Regions from separate parts of the Homo sapiens genome. Here region 1 is linked to region 2. The links come from fine-mapping of genetic effects on gene expression. A gene starts in region 2. The other region holds a variant in brackets. All regions are shown on one strand. Distances are between the middles of the regions. Region 1 overlaps ZGRF1 (zinc finger GRF-type containing 1). Region 2 holds the start of ZGRF1 (zinc finger GRF-type containing 1).

What was found. PIP is the estimated chance that this variant, and not a neighbour inherited with it, causes the effect.
Region 1: its variant is the best candidate, but not a certain one, in a credible set for the expression of ZGRF1 in whole blood (INTERVAL, PIP 0.51).

The regions. Positions count from the first base shown.
Region 1 is chr4:112,597,837-112,603,224 of GRCh38, forward strand. The region is part of intron 10 of ZGRF1 (zinc finger GRF-type containing 1); the gene reads right to left. Among named protein-coding and RNA genes, the nearest start is that of ZGRF1, 36 kb to the right of the region's middle. The variant C/G (reference allele first, on the strand shown) is at 2,931.
Region 2 is chr4:112,634,447-112,639,834 of GRCh38, forward strand. It overlaps ZGRF1 (zinc finger GRF-type containing 1), which reads right to left and starts at 2,463. Exons shown (of 28, transcript NM_018392.5): 1 at 2,405-2,463. LARP7 (La ribonucleoprotein 7, transcriptional regulator) reads left to right here and starts at 2,697. Exons shown (of 13, transcript NM_016648.4): 1 at 2,697-2,793. RefSeq lists enhancers at 2,260-2,479, 3,050-3,099, 3,140-3,249.

The DNA.
Region 1 (5,388 bases), 37 kb before region 2:
TCGTGCCACTTCACTCCGGCCTGGGTGACAGAGCCAGACTGTCTCAAAATGTACCCACACACACACACACTGAAAAAAAAAAAAAAAAGAATAAAGCAGATCATATCCAAATTCTACACTAAGTCAAACTATCAATCAAGTATGAAAGCAAAAAAAACCATTTTCAACATGCAAAGTCTCCCAAATTTTATCTCCCCTTGCTCCCTTTCTTTGGAGGTATTCAAAGATGTACTCCAGCATAACAAGAAAGGAGACATGGTGTTCAAGATGTAAGCAACTCATGCTAGGAAGGCAGCAATGGGCATTCTTAAGTTGTCAATTATACAGTGCATACTGAAGCAGGCAGATGAAAAACCTGGAAAAGATGCCATAGGAAAATAATGGAACTGACACAGATTATATGAAAAGTATGTGTGAATTCCTGTATTAAGGAGTATTTTATACAGCTTTTTGAGGGTATGGAAAAACTTTGCCCCAGTATTCAAAAAACACTAAGCAAATTTTAAAAAGAGACAATTATAAACCGGAAAAACCCAAAGTTATAAAGGGAAGAAAATGTAATCATAGTATACCAATTGGCTCAGCAGTGAAAATATTAAAACATTTATAATAACGAAAACATTGAATATATATTTATCTTAAAGTTATAATATAACTTAATATTATAGGTGCCTGGAAGAATATAAAGGAGGGATTCAGAAACAACTAATTTTACTGTAGCCACTGTAATCATTAGCTCTTGCTAAAGACAGTGCAAAATCACAATAGTTATTAAAAGCATCAAGGTGCTTTTATTAATTAATAATAAAATAATGTTTTTATTAATTAAAAACATTAAGTGAAAAAGAGTTCTGAGCTCCAGAAATCACAAAAAACACTGACAAATCTTATTACATAAATTAAAACATTTAATTTTAGAAAAATCATAATCAGGCCAGTCACGGTGTCAGATGCCTAGAATCCCAACACTTTGGGGGGTCAAGGCAGGTGTATCGGTTGAGCCCAGGAGTTCAAGACCAGCCTGGGCAACATGGTAAAACCCTATCTCTATAAAAAATTTAAAAATTAGCGAGGTTTGGTGGTGTGTACCTGTAGTCCCAGCTACTCAGGAGGCTAAGGTGGGGGAATCACTTGAGCCTGGGAGACAGAGGTTGCAGTGAGCCAATATCATGCCACTGCACTCCAGCTTGGGCAACAGAGTGAGGCTCCTTCTCAAAAACAAAAAAATCAGAGTCAAAGCACTAATGTAGTGGAAAAAAATGACAAAGGGTTAATTTTCTTAGTATGTAAAGAGCGAAGAGCTCCTACAAATCAAATATACAAATAATATATAGAGAACCTCTATACCAAAACTGTAAAACATTACTGGAAGATATTGCAGCAGATTGAAATAGAGGGAAATATTTTTATAATATTGAAAATTTATCAATAACATATTATAAAAATGTTAATTCTGCCCAAAATTGACATGCACAATGGAATTTCATCCAAATTCCCAGCTTGTATGTGTGAAAACCATTAAGCTAGTTCTAAACATATATGCAAATGTAAAAAAATGAGAAGAATGAGGTGGGAAGATTTAAAGATACATAGGAAGTACATAGGCCAGCCACTGTGGCTCACGCCTACAGTCCCAGCACTTTGGAAGACCAAGGTGAGAGGACTGCTTGAGTCAGGAGTTTGAGACCAGCCTGGCAATATAGCAAGACCCTGTGTCTAAAAAAAAAAAAAAAAAATTAGCCAGGCATGGTGGTGTGTGCCTACAGTCTCAGCTACTTGGGAGGCTGTGGAGGGAGGATCACTTGAGCCCAGGAGTTTGAAGCTGCAATGAGCCTGTATAATGCCACTGCACTTCAGCCTGGGTGACACAGTGAGATTCTGTTTAAAAAAAAAGGAAGAAAGAAAGAAAACACATGCTTTGTGACTTCTGAAATTGCAGACCAATAAATCAGAAGAGAAACTAATAAGAGACCCTTAATATATGGACCCTTGATTCATGGCAAAGGAATGAAGAAAAGATAGCTTTTTCAATAAATGGTGCTGGGTCAACTGAATATTCATATGGAGAAAACATGTAACTTTACATAAAATGTACTCAATACATAAAAATCAATTACAGGTAAACTGTAGATCAAAATGTGAAATGTAAATTAATAAAGCTTGTACAAGATAATATGAGAGAATATCTTCATGATCTTGAGGTAATGTTTTTTTTTCTTTGATACAGGATCTCACTCTGTCACCCAGTGTGGTGGCATGATCATGGCTCAAGGCAGCCTCAATCTCCCAGGCTCAAGCAATCCTCCTACCTCAGCCTGCTGGGTAGCTGGGACTAGAGGCACGCAACATGACACCTACCTAATTTTTAAATTTTTTTTGTAGGGACCGAGTCTCACTATGTTGCCCAGGCTGGTCTTGAATTCCTTGCCTTAAGTGATCCTCCTGCTTCAGGCTCCTGAAGTGCTGGGATTACAGGTGTGAGTGACCTTGTCATCCAGAGAAAGATTTCTTAAGATACAAAAGCGCTAATCGTAAAGGAAACAGCAAATAAATTACATTAAAAATGATAAACTAGGGCCAGGTGTGGTGGATCACTCCTGTAATCCCAGTACTTTGGGAGGCCGAAGCAAGCGGATCACGAGGTCAGGAGTTCGAGTCCTGCCTGGCCAACATGGTGAAACCCCGTCTCTACTAGAAATACAAAAATTAGCTGGCGTGGTGGTGGGCACCTGTAATCCCAGCTACTTGGGAGGCTGACGCAGGAGAATCACTTGAACCCAGGAGGCGGAGTGTTGGGAACAAGCTGAGTGTTGGGAGGGAAACTGAGGTAGGGCTTGCATGACTGACATAATGTCCTCTGGAATGTGTGTAGACTTGCTGGCTCCTTGCTTCTAGCCCTCCTAGGCTCCTATTCCCATTATCTCAAGTAG[C/G]AGAACACGTTCCTTATAAATGCTAAACTGTCACAGCTGTAGATCATGTGCCTGCCCTTTTGACCTCCACATTCTCACCACCTGTTTCTCTGTTGGATTACCAATAAACAGTGTGGGCTCCCAGAGATCGGGGCCTTCGCAGCCTCCATGATCGCGATGGCCACCTGGTCCCAGTTTTACTTCTCATACTGTCTTTTTCTCAATCCTTTGACTCTGCCAGACTTCATCACCCCTACAACCTGGTGTTGGGTCTGATCACCCCAACAGCAGAGGTTGCAGTGAGGCAAAATCACGCCACTGCACTCCAGCCTGGGCAACAGAGCAAGACTCCATCTCAAAAAAAAAAAAAAAATGATAAACTAGGCCAGGCGTGGTGGTTCACACCTATAATCCCAACACTTTGGGGGGCTGAGGCAGGAAGATCGTTTGAGCCCAGGAGTTCAAAACCAGCAGCAACCTGGTGAAACAACATCTCAAAAAAATTTTAAAAATTAGCTGGGCAGCCGGGAGTAGTGGCTCATGCCTGTAATCCCAGCACTTTGGGAGGCCGAGGCAGGCAGATCACTTGAGGCTAGGAGTTTGAGAACAACCTGGCCAACATAGCAAATTGTTAAGCTAGTTCTAAATGTATATGCAACCATACTAAAAATACAAGAAATTAGCCAGGCATGGTGGCGCATGTCTGTAATCCCAGCTACTCGGGAGGCTGAGGCAGGAGAATTGCTAGAACCCAGGAGGCAGAGGTTTCAGTGAGCTGAGATCACGCCACTGCACTCCAGACTGGGTGACAGAGCAAGACCTTGTCTAAAAAAAAAAAAAAAATTAGCTGGGCATAGTGGTGGGCACATGTAGTCCCAGCTACTCGAGAGTCTGAGGCAGGAGGATTGCTTGAGTCCAAGAAGTTGAGGCTGCAGTGAGCCATGTTCATGCACTGCACTCCAGCCTGGGTGACAGAGTTAAGACTCTGTCTCAAAAAACAACAAAAAAAGAAAAATTTTTGATTCATCAAAGATACCATTAAGAGTGAAAAGGTAAGTAAGGGTCAGGAAAGATATTTGCAAAGCATACAACTGACAATGAGTAGGTATCCAAATTATATAAAGAATTCCAGAAAATTTTTTAAAAGATAAGCACGTCAATTAAAAAATGAGGAAGAGGCCAGGCATGGTGGCTCACGCCTGTAATCCCAGCACTTTGGGAGGACGAGGCCGGCAGATCACCTGAGGTCAGGAGTTCGAGACCAGCCTGACCAACATGGAGAAACCCCATCTCTACTAAAAATACAAATTAGCTGGGCTCAGTGGCACATGCCTGTAATCCCAGCTACTTGGGAGGCTGAGGCAGGAGAATCGCTTGAACCCAGGAGGCAGAGGTTGCAGTGAGCCAAGATCACGCCATTGCACTCCAGTCTGGGCAACAAGAGCAAAACTCTGTCTCAAAAAAAAAAAGGAAGAAAGCTGAACAGGCACTACATCAAAGAGGATAAAGAGATGGCCAATAGGCATACAAAAAAGGTCCCAACCTCACTATCAGGCAGGAAAATGCAAATTAAAACTACAACTGAAGTACCAATATATACCCACCAGAATAGCTAAAACTGAAAACCAAAAACAGCATCAAGTGTTGGTAAAGATGTAGAGTGATGGGCACTCTCATACACTCCTAATGGAAATGTAAATTATAAAAACCACTTTGGAAATCAGTTTTGCATTATGTACTAAAAGTAAATATATCCTATCCAGTGACTCAATGATGCTACTCCTAGGTAATATAACCAACATAAGTATGTCACGCATGTGTGTATATGTACATGTTCATGATGGTACTTGAATGTTCACAGCAGCAGTATCTGTAATAGTCCCTTAACACAAATAACACAAACATCTGAAGAATGGATAAATTGGGATATATTTATGCAACAGAATACTACACCAGCAATTAAAATGAATAAATTATAGCCACAGGCAACAACATAAATGAATTTCAGAATTGCAATATTAAACAAAAGAGGGCAGACACAAAGAATACACTGTGTATGATTCTATTTATATAAAGTTTTAAAAGCAAAACTAATAGATGGTTATAAGTCAAGACAGTGGATATCTTAGGGAAAAGTGAAAAGGGTAGTGATTGAAAAGGGGCAGAAGGAGAGCTTCTGAGATGCTGAGAATGCTCTATTTGTTAAAGGTGGAGGTTATATGAGTATGCTTTGTGATGATTTACTTATTTCATATATGTATTATGCTTTTTTTTCTTTATTTCTTCTCATATGTATTATGCTTTGACAAAAAGGGAAATTTAAAAAAAAATCTCTTTGATGAACACTGTTTCAAATACATGCTTATCATTCTAACCTCATGACCTCTATTTTCATCCCCAGAAATCTGCCTTTGGTAGCAACTAGAGGTACTCAGTGTCATATTTAAAGAGAGAAGGGAAATATCAGAAGAAAAAAAAT
Region 2 (5,388 bases):
CGAGACCAGCCTGGCCAACATGGTGAAACCCCTGTCTCTACTAAAAATACAAAAATTAGCCAGGTGTGGTGGTGCGTGCCTATAATCCCAGCTACTTGGGAGGCTGAGGCAGGAGAATCACTTGAACCCAGGAGGCAGAGGCTGCAGTGAGCCGAGATCACGCCACTGCACTCCAGCCTGGGCGACAAGAGCAAAACTGTCTCAAAAAAAAAAAATAAAAGGGCGAGGCGGGGGCGGTGAAGTGCAAGAAAGTGACTGGCATCTTCCCTTGACTAATCAAGGTGATCTGGAGAAAGAATAGGTAAGGGGTATGCAAATGAGATATGCATACTTGCTTCGTGACACAGGTCACAGGACAGAAACCAAACCTACAGAAGGACTGCCTTTCAGAAATATAACTCCTGGCCGGGTGTGGTGACTCACGCCTGTAATCCCAGCACTCTGGGAGGCCATGGCGGGTGGATCATGAGGTCAGGCGCTCGAGACCAGCCTGACCAACATGGTGAAACCCCGTCTCTACTAAAAATACAAAAATTAGCTGGGCATGGTGGCACAGGCCTGTAGTCCCAGCTACTCAGGAGGCTGAGGCAGGAGAATTGCTTGAACCCGGGAGGCGGAGGTTGCAGTGAGCAGAGATCACGCCACTGCACTCCAGCCTGGGCGACAGAGCGAGACTCCATCTCAAAAAAAAAAAAAAAAAAGAAATACAACTTCCACATCCTATCTCCCTCCCCTCCGGCGTACATAAATTGCTGATGCCTAAGAATGCCAAGAAGATAAAAGAGAGATCGAGAAAAACACTCCTGGGCTAGATATGCTGTATACATAGATGAGAATACATGGTACAGACACAGTGCTGGGCATGTGGCAATTATTAATATCAGATCTGTTTAATAGCTACCATTTATTCAGTGCTACCATATGCTAGAAACTGTTAAATGCTTTATTTGGAGGTTTTGTTTCTGTTGGCTTTTTAACTTTTCTTTTTCTTTTACAGAGACAGGGTCTCACTCTGTCACCTAGGCTGGAGTGCAGTGTTGCAATCATAGCTCGCTGTGGCCTCAAACTCCTGGGCTCAAGCAATCCTTCCAGCCTCCCAAAGTGCTATATTATAAACATTATATACATTATATTGTTAATTATATACATTATAATTATTATGTAATTATATAATATATAACTATATTACTGTATTATGTAATATACAATTATATGATTATCGTGTGTAATTATATATATTTATTGATTACATACTATGTATCAGGCAGGAATTGGACGAGATACTTTACATACAGTATTTATCAGTCTCATAATCCTGAAGAATAAGCATTATTACAATTTACAGATTAGGAACCCAGTATTTACTAGTTTAGGATAACTTATATGCTATTTCACAATTGCAAGATAAATTCTCCATTATTTTCCTAAATTGAGATATTACTTCTGGAATGTACAGTTTAAAAAGAACTAAGAAGACTGAAACTCTTAAAGGATGGTTAAATTCGATTATAGGAGAAAACCTAAAAAAAAAAAGCTAACTGGATCTTTTAAAATTTAGAAGAGCTCTAATACTTATTCATTGAAAGTCAACACCCTTTCTTATCTTAGTATTAATCAGAAAAAATTATTTTAGACAACAGCATCATATATATTTAAGTGAGATGCAAAGAGTTTTTTCCAAGTGTTCATCTGTCCACGTCTACCAGACAATTCACCTGTTGACCGACTTCTAATAGGTGAAAGATTAATCTCCAAATAAGTTTTTAAAGACCCCAGATGCTCTGTGATAATTATATACATACATACATACACACAGATATACGTACATACACACATATACATACATATACATTGTGCTACTATATGTACGGACGCAATATATATACATAAAACTCGGTGTTCTCAGTAAAGTATGAGCCATTATTCATTTAAATACTAGATATTTTTCCTTTTTTTTTAAACAAGGAGTATTTTTTGAACCTAAACCTGAACCTCTAAATAGTTCGGATAACAAAGTTTTGGAATCATGAACTCAACATTGTTAACAAACCATCCAGTCCAAATAAACAAAGGAAACCCACATCTCATTTGCCAAGATTCTAAGAACCATAATCCTGTCACCAAATGACAATGGAGACTTGATCCTTTCTCAGTCCTAAATACAAACAGCAAAGCCCTCTTTGGTCCTCATACCTACTCGAAATTGCAAAGCAAGGCCTGGGAAAAACGGTGAAGAGGCACCACTTACTACAAGCAGTCCGAGTAGCTGTGACTGCGACCACCCCAATCCTGGTTCCAAACAGCATCCTTCCCGGTTCTCTTCTTAAGGAGCAGAGTCTTTCGTCCCTTCGCCCCAAATCGCTCAAGTCATTCCTAGGAAATCCCGAGAAACACTTCACCTCACCTGTCAAATTGCACAAAATCCACTTTCGAATTTCTCCCGCGAAACAACGTGACGTCATTAACGCGGGACCTCACCAGATGAGGACCCAAAACTTGGCCCGCCCACCTCCGCCTAAGCCAAAAACCGCCGCTTTCAAATCGCCAATCAAATTCTTCCTTGGCTTCGAGTCTCTCAGCCGGCCGCGCTCTCCGATGCCCAGCCCTCCTGGAACCACCTCGCCTGTGACGTAGGTGGAGCGCGCACTGCCTCCGGGCCCGTCTTTCTCAATTGGGACCGGAAAACGTTGTCGCTCATCCTATGACGCGAAAGTAACCGAGACTATCAGGATCCGGAGACGGAAATGTCCGAAGGCCGCAGTACTTGACCCTGTATTTTGGGAGTCGAACGGAGTAAGTTACAAGCGGCCTATAGGGTCGCACAGCTTGGGCGAAGTCTAATTAACTCTCCGTCCTTTTTCTTGCGGTCCACTCTATCATCTATCGTCCTTCTTACCCCGCCCCCCCGTCCTGCACACCCATCAGTTCCTTGGCCTAGTTATCTATGCGCACGCGCAAAAGTCTTCGGCAGCACTTGTAGTTCCCGTTTTCAGACAGTAAGGGCGCATAGGGGCCCGGCGTGGGGAGGTTTGGGGCGCGCCCGGCCTATGACGGCGTCCTTGCGGAAGTACGGGTGCCGAGAGAAGCAGTAGTCAATAAAGAGAGTGCCGTATTTCGCAGATTGGAGCTGAGCTGTGGCTGCCAGAAGATAGCGAACGTGAGGATTTATATTCTAAAATTATCATCTTCTTTTGCAGGACTCTGCCATCGTCCTCAAAGAGTAAAAAATCCAGTTACGGAAGGGAACTAACACTTGCTAGATATGGTGTGCAGAGTGCGTTTGCAAAGAAACTTAAGAGAAAACAAATGATAGGACACAGGGTGGTGGAAGATCTCAAAGAGTAAGATGCCATTTAACCTGGGCCTTGAAAATTTAATAAGGAAATTTAGACGAGAAGATTCAGACAAAGCAGAACACACAGGCCACTACGTGTTGAGGGACTTGAGTTGTAAGCAGTGACCAGAACAATGATTCTTAACCTGTTGTGGCACACTTCTTTTGAAAACTTAATTATATGGATTAGCTTCTCAGGAAAACGTGCATGTACCTATTAAAACATTTTGCGAGGCTGGGCACGGTGGCTCACGCCTGTAATCCCAGCACTTTGGGAGGCCGACGCGGGAGGATCACTTGAGGTCAGGAGTTCGAGACCAGCCTGGCCAATATGGCAAAATCTCGTCTCTACTAAAAACACAAAAATTAGCGGGGAGTGGTGGTGCACACCTGTAGTCCCAGCTACTCAAGAGGCTTGGTTGGGAGAATCGCTTGAACTCGGGAAGCAGAGATTACAGTGAGCCGGGATCGCGCCACTGCACTGCAGCCTGGGCCACTGAGAGAGGCTGCGTCTCCAAACAAACATTTTTCATATAATTTCCTCAGGAGAAATTACGAAATACTTTTAAATAGCAAACACACACAAATGACTTGGTGTCTTGTCTGACTCACTCTTCCAAGTTATCTATGTCTTTCGTGGTCTTTGAACTATTTTTCAACCCTGTAACTCGCTACAGCAACATGGAAATTAGGTTTGTCCAGTAAAGATGCAATTAATTATTGTCCTGAGCAGTATTTATTAATATTCATTTCAACGTTCCTGATTGCCTGTGTACCTGCTTTTTAAATTCTCCTTTGAACTGGTTTTTAGCACTTAACTGGTTCCCTTATTTACAGTCAAGCACCACATACCGACAGACCGCATGTATGACAGTGGTCCCATAAGATTATAGGTGAGTAATAGGCAATAGTACCTAGGTTTGTGTGAATACATCATAGAATAACTACATACTCAATGATGTACTTACTCACCTGACTGTGCATTTCTCAGAATGTGTCCTTGTCGTTAAGCAACCCATGACTGTGCTTAAATCTTTACCGTGTATTCATTTTATATTTGTACAAGAGTCTTGATTTTACCTTATCTTTAAAATGTATCATTTACAATTTAATGGAGCCCACTAGAATTCTTGTCCAGCCAAAGTTGCATGGACTTCAGATTAAGAATTCCTGAGTCAGAACATAGAGTCCGTGGTGATAAATTGCGGGAAATTCTACCAAAAGGTAGACAATGTGGGATCAAACATACCTGGGACAACTTACTTAGCTAGCTTTGGCCAAGTCACTTAAACCTTTTTGAGTTTTTGTGTTAAGATGGAAGAAACTGCTACCTAGTGGGATTGTGAGGATTTACAAAAGTGTATATAAAGTTACTGGTATTGTTACCCAATAACTTTTATTCTTCATTTAAAGCCAGTTAAATGTTACTTTTTTTTTTTTTTTTTTTGAGACGGAGTCTTGCCCTGCCGCCCAGGTTGGAGTGCAGTGGCACGATCTCGGCTCGCTGCAAGCTCCGCCTCCCGGATTCACACCTTTCTCCTGCCTCAGCCTCCCAAGTAGCTGAGACTACAGGCGCCTGCCACCATGCCCGGCTAATTTTTTTCTTTTCTTTTTTCTTTTTTTGTATTTTTAGTAGAGACGTGGTCTCACCTTGTTAGCCAGGATGGTCTCCATCTCCTGACCTCGTGATCCGCCCGCCTTGGCCTCCCAAAGTGCTGGGATTACAAGCGTGAGCCACCGCGCCTGGCCAAGTGTTACTTTTTTTTTTTAAAACAGTGTTTTCATAAACTGCATATTATGTTACGGGAAGGTGCTAAGGAATTTCTAATGTTGCAAGTTTTGACAGAAGCATCACAAAACCAGGTCTGTGTTTTAGATGGGTTATACATAGGCTCCTGTTGAGAATGGGTGACTTACAGAACAGTTTATAAACTATTGGCATATTCTAGTGACAGTTGTAGCAGTAGTTGTAGAAAACACTGGATGGAGATGAGAGCCATTTCAAAAGTCAAACTGATAGGATTTAACAAGAGATTGGATAGAATAATTGGATA